Regions from separate parts of the Homo sapiens genome. Here all the other regions are reported to be linked to region 1. Evidence: microRNA targets listed by miRTarBase, many of them from high-throughput screens and not tested one by one. Region 1 holds a microRNA gene; each other region holds the end of a gene's coding sequence.
What was found. Region 1 holds the annotated microRNA hsa-miR-620 (AUGGAGAUAGAUAUAGAAAU, at 1,948-1,967, shown strand). A microRNA usually pairs through its seed, bases 2 to 8, with sites in the 3' UTR of a target mRNA and lowers its output. Matches are read on the target gene's strand: a 7mer-m8 pairs with bases 2 to 8, a 7mer-A1 pairs with bases 2 to 7 and ends in A, and an 8mer does both.

Region 2: miRTarBase lists FAM184B as a target of hsa-miR-620. Seed matches in the 3' UTR shown: 7mer-A1 at 999-1,005.
Region 3: the mRNA of FAT3 is a reported target of hsa-miR-620. Seed matches in the 3' UTR shown: 7mer-m8 at 1,943-1,949.

Annotation. Positions count from the first base shown.
Region 1 is chr12:116,147,279-116,150,541 of GRCh38, reverse strand. MIR620 (microRNA 620) reads left to right here and starts at 1,888; the gene lies at 1,888-1,982. The region is part of intron 2 of MED13L (mediator complex subunit 13L); the gene reads left to right.
Region 2 is chr4:17,629,860-17,633,090 of GRCh38, reverse strand. FAM184B (family with sequence similarity 184 member B) reads left to right here. Exons shown (of 18, transcript NM_015688.2): 18 at 466-3,231. The coding sequence ends at 559. It overlaps MED28 (mediator complex subunit 28), which reads right to left. Exons shown (of 4, transcript NM_025205.5): 4 at 1-3,231. Among named protein-coding and RNA genes, the nearest start is that of MED28, 17 kb to the right of the region's middle.
Region 3 is chr11:92,890,550-92,893,812 of GRCh38, forward strand. It overlaps FAT3 (FAT atypical cadherin 3), which reads left to right. Exons shown (of 28, transcript NM_001367949.2): 28 at 1-3,263. The coding sequence ends at 564. Among named protein-coding and RNA genes, the nearest start is that of LINC02746, 23 kb to the right of the region's middle.

The sequences.
Region 1 (3,263 bases):
CACGAGAGCAGAATGGAAGCTCAGACCCGGTTGTAGGAGGTTTAGAATGCCAGCCTGGAGCACTGAGTCTTTCCCACCTCATTGATTATAGAAGTTTAGTTTACTAAATTATGACAAGATCTAGATGTAACAAGAAGAGTAGAAATGACTTATTTTTTGCCTTCTTGGATTTGCTTTCCAAGACTTTGTTGTAATAAAATTTGAGTACGTTGATAAGCTGGCACTGCTGTAAGGGAAGGTAGGCTCTGGCCTTAGGCGGACACAAGAGAACTAGACACTTGGTGGTTTGTTACATGTTGTGTGAAGTTAATGTCCAGTGACACAGCCTGCATGGTCAGCCAGAAAAGAGATTTGGCTTAGGGCCATGCTGGTATCACAGCGATCTCAGCGTCAGCTCTGATTCCAATTAGGTCTTTACAGAGATTCTTGCATTTAGAGCCATTCTTTTGACAACTAAATCTGTCCATGTGTGCATTTATTAAATGTGTATACTTGGGTCTAATTTTGTATTTGATCCACTTCCAGAGAAATGAATTTATTCATTCATTAAAAATGGATACATTAAAAAAATGTAACTATCAGAGGGCAAAGTGAAAGAAATATCACACCTTTCTTTTTCTGTCTTCCATTTCTTCCTCAGCCCTTTAAAAATATGTTATTTTATCATTCATTTATTAAACATTTTTTATTGCCAGCTAAGCTGCAGGCACTATAGGGGCATATGAAAGGAACTTAATGTCCACTTACTCATCTCTAGCCAAACCATTCTCAATGCCTAACTCTTATTTTCTGTGTTTTTATTCATGTTGTTTCTTCTGCTTAGGTCATCTGTATCAGCGTCTTTCCTTAATCTCCCTGTTTACTTATTCTAAATGTTACCCACCCTTTAAGGTCTGATTTAATATTATTGGGAGATTTGGCATTTAGGTGAAATGTAAAACTCTTCTTTCACAAATACCGGATACTGTTTTTTAAGTAACTTGCTTGTTAGTAATCATTTGACTTTTTGGGCATAGCCTGAGCTGTTCTTTTTAGAGCCAGCCTTCTTTGTCAAATGAGAATTAAAAAAGAAAAATGCGGGAAGCATGTTTCACAGATGGAAGATGAGGTTAATCAATCAAACATATTATCTAAACCATGCAGAATTCCTTTCTAGGGTTGTTGGGGGAATATATTTAACAATAGGTCATGACAGCTGAGCTCTAGACAATTCCTTCTGATCAGCCTTTAATTAATCTAGTGGGGTCTAAGACTTAACTGTATATAGCTAACTATAATACATGACAAAATATGAGAAGTTCTAGAATATAAACATAATCAAGAATGCCTTAAGTCAGGAAAGAGGGAAGTTAGTCTACTTGGAGGGATATGAGGAAAGTCTTATGGAAAACATGACATAGTAATAAGCAGAGATGGGAGCAGGGTAGCCTATTCTGGGCACATGGTACGGTGCATGAGCAAAGGTATGAATACCGGATGTGATCAAAGTATCTCAAACAATGAGTTGTTAGTGGGTAGGAAATAGAAGGAAGTATACAGAGAAAACTGAACAAATAGGTGGGACAAAAATAGTACAGTTATAAGATCATTAGACTATTTTTAGTGAGTTTAAAAACATGATCAGAGCCATGCTTTAGTAAGGTGACAGAAAGTGGTAAGAGTGGATCGAAGGCAATACTGAGGAACAGATCTACATGGCTAGTTGAAGACAAGTGAAAGATTTCAAAGTGTGGTTATTGATTGGTTAGACGAATAGAGTATTACATTCCCCATCTTCTTAAAGCAAAGCCTCCTTTCTTAGGAGGTAACCTAAATTCCAATAATTTCTCCTTTCTTTTATGCTCCTCTTTCCCAAAATAAGAAAATCAAGATAAACTACTTATATCTATATATATCTATATCTAGCTCCGTATATATATATATATATATATAGATATCTCCATATATATGGAGATAGATATAGAAATAAAACAAGCAAAGAAGTTTTTAGTATGGATTGTCAACTTGACATCACTTTTTCAGTGATTTTATCTTTAGCTGGTTACTATATAAAACACTTTTGTCATTGACATGAAAGTTTTTCAAACTTAATTTTTCTCTTTTTCCTTTTTGAGCCACTTGCAGTAGCACTCCTCATTTTGTAGGAGAGAAGTATAATCCCATTTATAAGGTTCACCATCAACAATTATAAATAATTTTAATATATGGCTTTGTGTAGTTCCACAAAAATGTATTTAATATTGGCTTTTTTTAAAAGCAAAATATAATTGTAGGGGAGACGGTTGAGTTATTTGCACACTAAGTGAGAAATTCAGGAAATACTTGAATTTTATTAATCTTCAGAACTAAATAAATGTCTGTATATATGTGTATGTTTATATACATGAATGAATGGAAATGAATGACTTTAATACCAAATCAGTCCTAGCTGCTTGAACCCCCGCCCCCCTCCACTCCCGCCCCCCTCTTTTTTTTTTTTTTTTTTTTTTTGAGATGGGGTCTTGCTCTGTAGCCCAAGCTGGAGTGCAGTGGCATGATTTTGGCTCACTGCAACCTCCTGCCTCCCGGGCCAGGAGAAGTGATTCTCCTGCCTAAGCCTCCCAAGTAGCTGGGATTACAGGTGCACGCCACCAAGCCCGGCTAATTTTTTTGTTAAAAAAACCTCATCTTTTAACAGTATATATGATAATTACATGTTACTCAATAATATTATGGGTAGTTTTTTAAATTAGCTTTTTTTAGAATTATGAAATTAGCACATGTTCACTGTATATTTGAACAATATAAGGATGAATGTTGTAAAAAGTGTAAATACCCAACCGTTCTTCTTGTAAGGTAGAAAAATTACAGTTTGGTATATTACAGATAGGTTCTTTGAAAGCCTGGAAAGAAATCTTTAGCATATCGTGCTGTCAAGATGTCTTTAGCAGAGTCGTTAATACAAGATGACCTTTAGGTTGCTTATAAGTTAAAGACTGCTCTGTCGCCTGCAGTCATGTTTATATGTATGAACATATTTCACCATACTTTTTACAGAGGTTATATTTGGCAAGGATAACAGTAACAGTAAAACAGTTTTGTTTTACTTTTTGTTGCAGCTGATAAAAATTATGATGTGAAGAGTCTGATACTATAAAACTGTCTGGTTATTTCTGTAAGTTTTAAACTGAAATTTATAGCCATACCATGAAGAATATGAAATTCTTAGATGCAGTATAATGTTGCCAAATTATACAAGTAAAGTCAGGTGTTAATATTTATTT
Region 2 (3,231 bases), not on the chromosome of region 1:
ATTAGCCAGGTGTGGTGGTATGCGCCTGTAATTCCAGCTCCCCGGGAGGCTGAGGCACAATGATCGCTTGAACGCAGGAGGCTGGAGGTTGCAGTGAGCCGAGATCATGCCACTGCACTCCAGCCTGGGTGACAGAGGGAGACTCTGTCACAAAAAATAAAAACAAAGTCTCTTGATCTGTAGGTTTGGTTAATCCTGCATTATTAGAGCTACAACCACTAAGTCTCAAAGGAACAATGGAGAACCAAACAATGGTGAACCTTCTGTTTTCCAAATGAGGATTAGGTACTCCCTCCCCAGCCCCATCCTTTACAATTTGTTTCCCACTACTAATGTTGGCCAGTCCCATTTGGGTGTTTTTGAAGAGTAAACAAGCAGTTATCTTTCCCTGAAAAGATGGTGGGTATTAAGCTGCTTCTTGCATAGTTTTCAAAACCATATAAAAAAACCTTTTTTTGCTTTTAGGACCCCAGATGGTGAAACGGCCCAAGCCAAAGAAGTCCAGCAGAAACAGGGCTCTCCGCACCAGGAATGGTTCACCAAGTACTTTTCTTTCTAAGCTAACCTTTGGGATACATCACAGAGGATACTTGAAAAACATTTATTTTAAATCATCCGATTGAAGGAATGAACTAACACCAACCAACCAAATAATATGCTTATGATTTATATATGATAGCTAAAACAAATTTTGGCGTTAACACTTCATACTGTTCTGCCAGGCACAGCAGCTCACGCCTGTAATCCCATCACTTTGGGAGGCTGAGGCAGATGGACTGCTTGAGTCCAGGAATTTGAGACCAGCCTGGCCAATATGGTGAAACCCCATCTCTACAAAATATACAAAAATTAGCCAGGCATGGTGGCGTGTGCCTGTGGTCCCAGGTACTTGGGGGACTGAGGCGGGAGGATCACTTGAACCTAGGAGGCAGAGGTTGCAGTGAGCCAAGTTCGAACTCCTGCATTCCAACCAGCCTGGGTGACAGAGGGAGACCCTGTCTCCAAAAAAAAAAAAAAAAAAAAAAAAAAAAAAAAAAAAAAAAAAAATTGACATTAAACCAGTGTTATTAAAAGTCATCTATAGGAAAATGTTATTAGCGTTACTAATGACCCATACCTTGTATTTCTAGTGTCCATAACATCATACTCCATTTTGTGGAACATCAGACTTTGTGATTTCCATGATCTATTTCAAAAGTGGTTGTACTTGTCCTTAGGATGCTAGTCAACTCCACTGGAAAGCTGTTTCTATGTAAAATGATGCAATTCCAAAATGCACATCTAACCTCAATAGGAAGACAAATAACAGTTAAACAGGAAAGCCAACTAAAAACAAACCAAACCTACCAGAAATGGATGGTAGCATGCTTGGACTGAATACTTTCACTTCCTTGGTCTAAGACAAGCAGCAGATTATAGATGGGATAACACCCACCTCTAAAAGGGCTTTGCAAGGATTAAGCAAGATAACATAAATTAACATGAATTGGAATTAAGTACCACAAGGTTTTTCTGTAAATAACCAATCCTAGCCCAGTTATAGGTCTCAGTGTAATGACCATAGTGCCAACATGATCACTTGTGAAGGTCTCTAGATTATCTGTTCTTTGAAGTCAAAGATCTTCTAGACTGGGCACATGGCTCATGCCTGTAATCCCAACACTTTGGGAGGCTGAGATGGGAGGAGAGCTTGAGGCCAGGAATTTGAGACCAGCCTGGGCAACACAGCGAGACCTCCATCTCTACAAAAAAATAATTAGCCCAAAGAAAACCCAGCTACTTGGAAGTCTGAGGTAGGACAGCATGAGCCCAAGAGTTCGAGACCAGCCTGGGCAAGATAGTGAGATCCCATCTCTACAGATTAAAAAAATATATATATATATCCCCTGAACCTCTGGTCTTTGGGTTTGAGCCATTTGCCTCATGGTGTGTTGCTTCTTCACTGCATGAATTCCCAGTGGGTTAAAGGAACCGCAATGGCTGTTCACGGTGCTGACCTTGCTCTCAGTCCACACTGATTTGTCTTACCTTCTGACAGAGCAATGTGATTTGACAAGACTCAATAACAACTTTTAGGGGGCAAAATATTTTTTCAGTCTTTGGTGCTGGCCCAGAAGGTGGCCCACAAACCAATGTTAATTCTATGCATTGTCAAATCTTTGCTCTTTGAATAAAACTTTGAATAACTGGGCAATAAAAATGGTTGACTTGTATTGATTTTCCACAGAAAGGTAAAATTAGATGAAGACAGCTTAGAAATAGAAAGTTCAGTTCACATTAACCTCAATCACACCATCTTAAAAAAAAAAAAGCTGATTACATATAACTGTCAAACTTACGTATTAAAGGTAAATTTACTGCCTAATCAAAACGAGGCTCCAATGCATTTTTAAATGCAAACAAACACTTGTCACCATACATTAACACACCATACTGTTTTTCACTACCAAATATTTTTTGTGAGTTTCCCGCTTAGAGTGTCTTAGTTCGTTCAGGCTGCTCTAACAAAATATCTTACTTATACTGGATAATTTATAAACAATAGAAATATGTCACTCACAGTCCTAGAGGCTAAGTCCAAGATCAAGGCACCAGCAGATATGGAGTCTGGGGAGGGCCCATTCTTCAGAAATGGGTGCCTGCTACGTGTCCTTACATGGTGGAAGAGGCAAGAGCGCCTCCCTGAGCCTCTTTTGTAAGGGTACTTATCCTACTCATGAGGGTGAAGCCCTCATGACTCCATTGCTTCCCAAAAGCCCCACCTCTTAATACTATTACATTGACATTAGGTTCCAACATATGAATTTTGGAAGGGACATCAACATTCAGGACATAGCAGTGAACCCTGTAGGACTGCTCTTTATTTTGTGCTTTCAAAAAGACTACATACAGGTGGTTCTATTTTTGTGTGTTGAAACACTTTCCCAGGCTGCACTTTGCATTTCTGTCCTTAAACTCAGCATGATCCCTGGGCAAGGAGAAAATTTTACTAGTTGAGATCGTACATAGGTTTTGACTCCTTTCTTGCTGCAGGTGACTGAAAAGATCTTTCAGTCTTAAATTTCTAAATTCTACCCTGCAATGATTATATCTTTGTTAACAAAATCTTTGCATGCTTCCATAATTTTTTATTGAGGCCATATGCCTTGGGTATTGAAGTAAGGCATTTAAGGACACAAACTTAAGCTTTTTGTTTGTTATTACCAAACTGCCATTCAGAAAGTTTCTAAC
Region 3 (3,263 bases), not on the chromosome of region 1:
GTGCCCAACTATGAGAACCAGGATGGAGGGTCTGCACACCAGGGGAGCACACGGGAGCTGGAGAGCGATTACTACCTGGGTGGTTATGACATTGACAGTGAATACCCACCCCCTCATGAAGAGGAGTTCTTGAGTCAGGACCAGCTGCCTCCTCCTCTCCCGGAGGACTTCCCAGACCAATATGAGGCCCTGCCACCCTCCCAGCCTGTCTCCCTGGCCAGCACACTGAGCCCAGACTGCAGGAGAAGGCCCCAGTTTCATCCTAGCCAGTATCTCCCTCCTCACCCATTCCCCAACGAAACGGATTTGGTGGGCCCGCCTGCCAGCTGTGAATTTAGTACTTTTGCTGTGAGCATGAACCAGGGCACAGAGCCCACAGGCCCAGCAGACAGCGTGTCTCTGTCCTTGCACAATTCCAGAGGCACCTCATCCTCGGATGTGTCTGCCAACTGCGGCTTTGACGATTCCGAAGTAGCCATGAGTGACTACGAGAGCGTGGGAGAGCTCAGCCTCGCCAGCCTTCACATTCCCTTTGTGGAGACTCAGCATCAGACTCAAGTGTAGACATCACATCTTGGGTACTTCACCCTGTTTGTTACAGAAAAGTGGAAGCAGATTGGCTGGGCTTCTGTCCCAGTGGAGCATTGTCTGTGGAATGAGAAGGGAATACTGTATTTTTCCACTAGAAACTTCTTCACAAGTCATACTGTCCCAACAAGCAAGCTTGATTCCAGTTGGGTGAAAATGAAAGGCTCAGAAATTGTTTTTGAGAGGTGACTGGTAATCCTTGATGTAGGTACCTATGTTCACAGCTAAAAATGCAAAGAGGGAAAAATTATTTCACCCACTAAGTTATACAGCCAGTCTTGTATGGCTTTGTGCAGTATTGTGCCCTGGAAAGTGTTACAGCATCAGTCCTTGCAGTATTAAAAACTGGCAACAATCAAAGAGGCATTGTTGCATGTAATTTTGAGCCAATGAAATGAAAATAGTAGTAATGATTGTTGGAAAAGTTAGTCTCTTAGGCGAAAGAGAAGAGAAACAAATATTATTAAACAAACCAGAAAATGGGCTGAAGCCTTTTAAATCAACTCTATTTTTTTGATAAGCTGCCCAATTTTCAGCTATAAAATTAGGCTTGAATAACATGTTTAGTATGCTCAGTTATTTCTGTTTGTTTGTGTTAAGCATCCAATCTAATATAGTTGGGTTTTATGATCTTCAAGAAAGGTATCAATGAAGAGCAACATGAGGCTTTTTGGGTTCCATTTGGTGGGTGGGGGAGGAAGTTAAAGTTGTTTGAACATTAGAAAGAATGTGATTATCTGGTTGGTTTTGTGTTTTCTGGTAAATATTCCAGTTGGTAAATCTAACATTGCTACAGAAGTTGGCTTTGTTCATATAGCTTCTCTACAATTAGATATTTTTAGAAGTTTAAGCAAAACTCACAAATTCAGGGGGGAAAAAAGAAAAAACGATACCTTCAAAGTTTGCGGCCTAGATAATCACAATTCTTCATAATGCAGAGGAAAGGTGTCTGTTATTCTAAATCGGTAGCATCACCATTATAAATACAATTATGTTAAGAAAAGAGGAAAGTAGACTAGTTATTGTGTATAAATTATAATAGTGTGTGTGTGTCTGGGCCTATGTACAAATATGTGCTTGCACTCAGTAAGGCTGCTCTTGAGGAAAGCTAATGTGAAGGTTTTGGGAAATGGACCATGTTGAAAATTCTGCCGGCGAGCATGGCATACCTTTCAATTTCTCTGATCTCTATGGTGTTAGAGAAACATCAAATGCCATATTTTACTCTGGTTCAGTTAACTTTATTTTGGTACTGCCAATAAAGCAAAATTGTGCTTTTTTTTTTTTTTCTCAAGACAGAGTCTTGCTCTGTCACCCAGGCTAGAGTGCAATGGCATGATCTCAGCTCACTGCAATCTCCACCTCCTGGGTTCAAGCGATTCTCCTGCCTCAGCCTCCCAGGTTGCTGGGGTTACAGGTGTGTGCCACCACGCCTGGCTAATTTTTTGTATTTTTAGTAGAGATGGGGTTTCACCATGTTGGCCAGGCTGGTCTCAAACTCCTGACCTCGTAATCCACCTGCCGTGGCCTCCCAAAGTGCTGGGATTACAGGCATGAGCCACCGTGCCCAGCCCAAAACTGTGCTTTTTAAAAACAGTATTTTGTTATAATTTTCCAGAACTTACCTCTGTTTTAAAAGTGTGTAATGTTTGATTACACCCTGGGATTCCCTTCTCATCTGTGGGCTTTGGCCATGATTTCCAAAATTAACAGGAGAATCATTCCACTGGAAATATAACAATCCAGTCCTCAAAACTGAAAGTTGACAGGTTGAGGGACTTTCCTTTTTTGCTTCAATCAGATTACGGCCGCCTGTGCAGTGGCCATGGTAAATATATGCATATTTGCACTATCTGCTTAATGAGCAAATCTGTGTCCACAGTTTCTGATGACATATGGCATTGGTGTGTAAATTGTACTGTCCCTAGTCTGTGCATTATTCACTCAGACATATTTTTAGTTATTTCAATTGCGTTTAATCCACTTCTTTTTTATGAGTCAGTGTTTCTGAATGTTTATGCAAAAAAAAAAATCCTTTTTCATTCCCAAACTTTCTAAGTAAGTGGATACACTACACTTCACAAGTTTTCCAGCCTTTCTCTTCCTGTCTCTTGGTCAGACCTACTCATGGAGGTATTATCCACACTGTGATCTTGAAATAAATGAATTTCACTAAGGCTGCTTTCGAGAACAAAGTCTTTGGTATTTTTCTTATGTAAGAAGCACATTTGCAAGAATCATGGAAAAAAATGACAAACTAATGGCCTAGAATAGAGTGACTGCTACACTTTAAGTAATGCAATGACATAAAAACCATCAAAGTAAAACCAACATGTCATTTCCTGCCCCCAGGAAATATTAGAATGAGATTAATGCTGATGAGTCCCTACTGCTTACACAGCATCTCTTTGAGGGAGAATGCCTGACTGACACAGTAATGAAAGAATAAATAGATCCTAATGCAGTCATGAAGCCACTGAAGAAAATTGTGCCCACCCTTTGCTGTGACCTATATAAAATATCTCTTTCTTTGGGATATCATCCCCTGATTTTCTGCAGAATAGCTCTGCAGCTAAATATATACCAGGCAAGCATGTATTGTGTTTTGATTTATTATCTTTAAACACATGATATCTCTTCACTTTTTGGAAAGTTAGATTTCTCTGTAGATTATG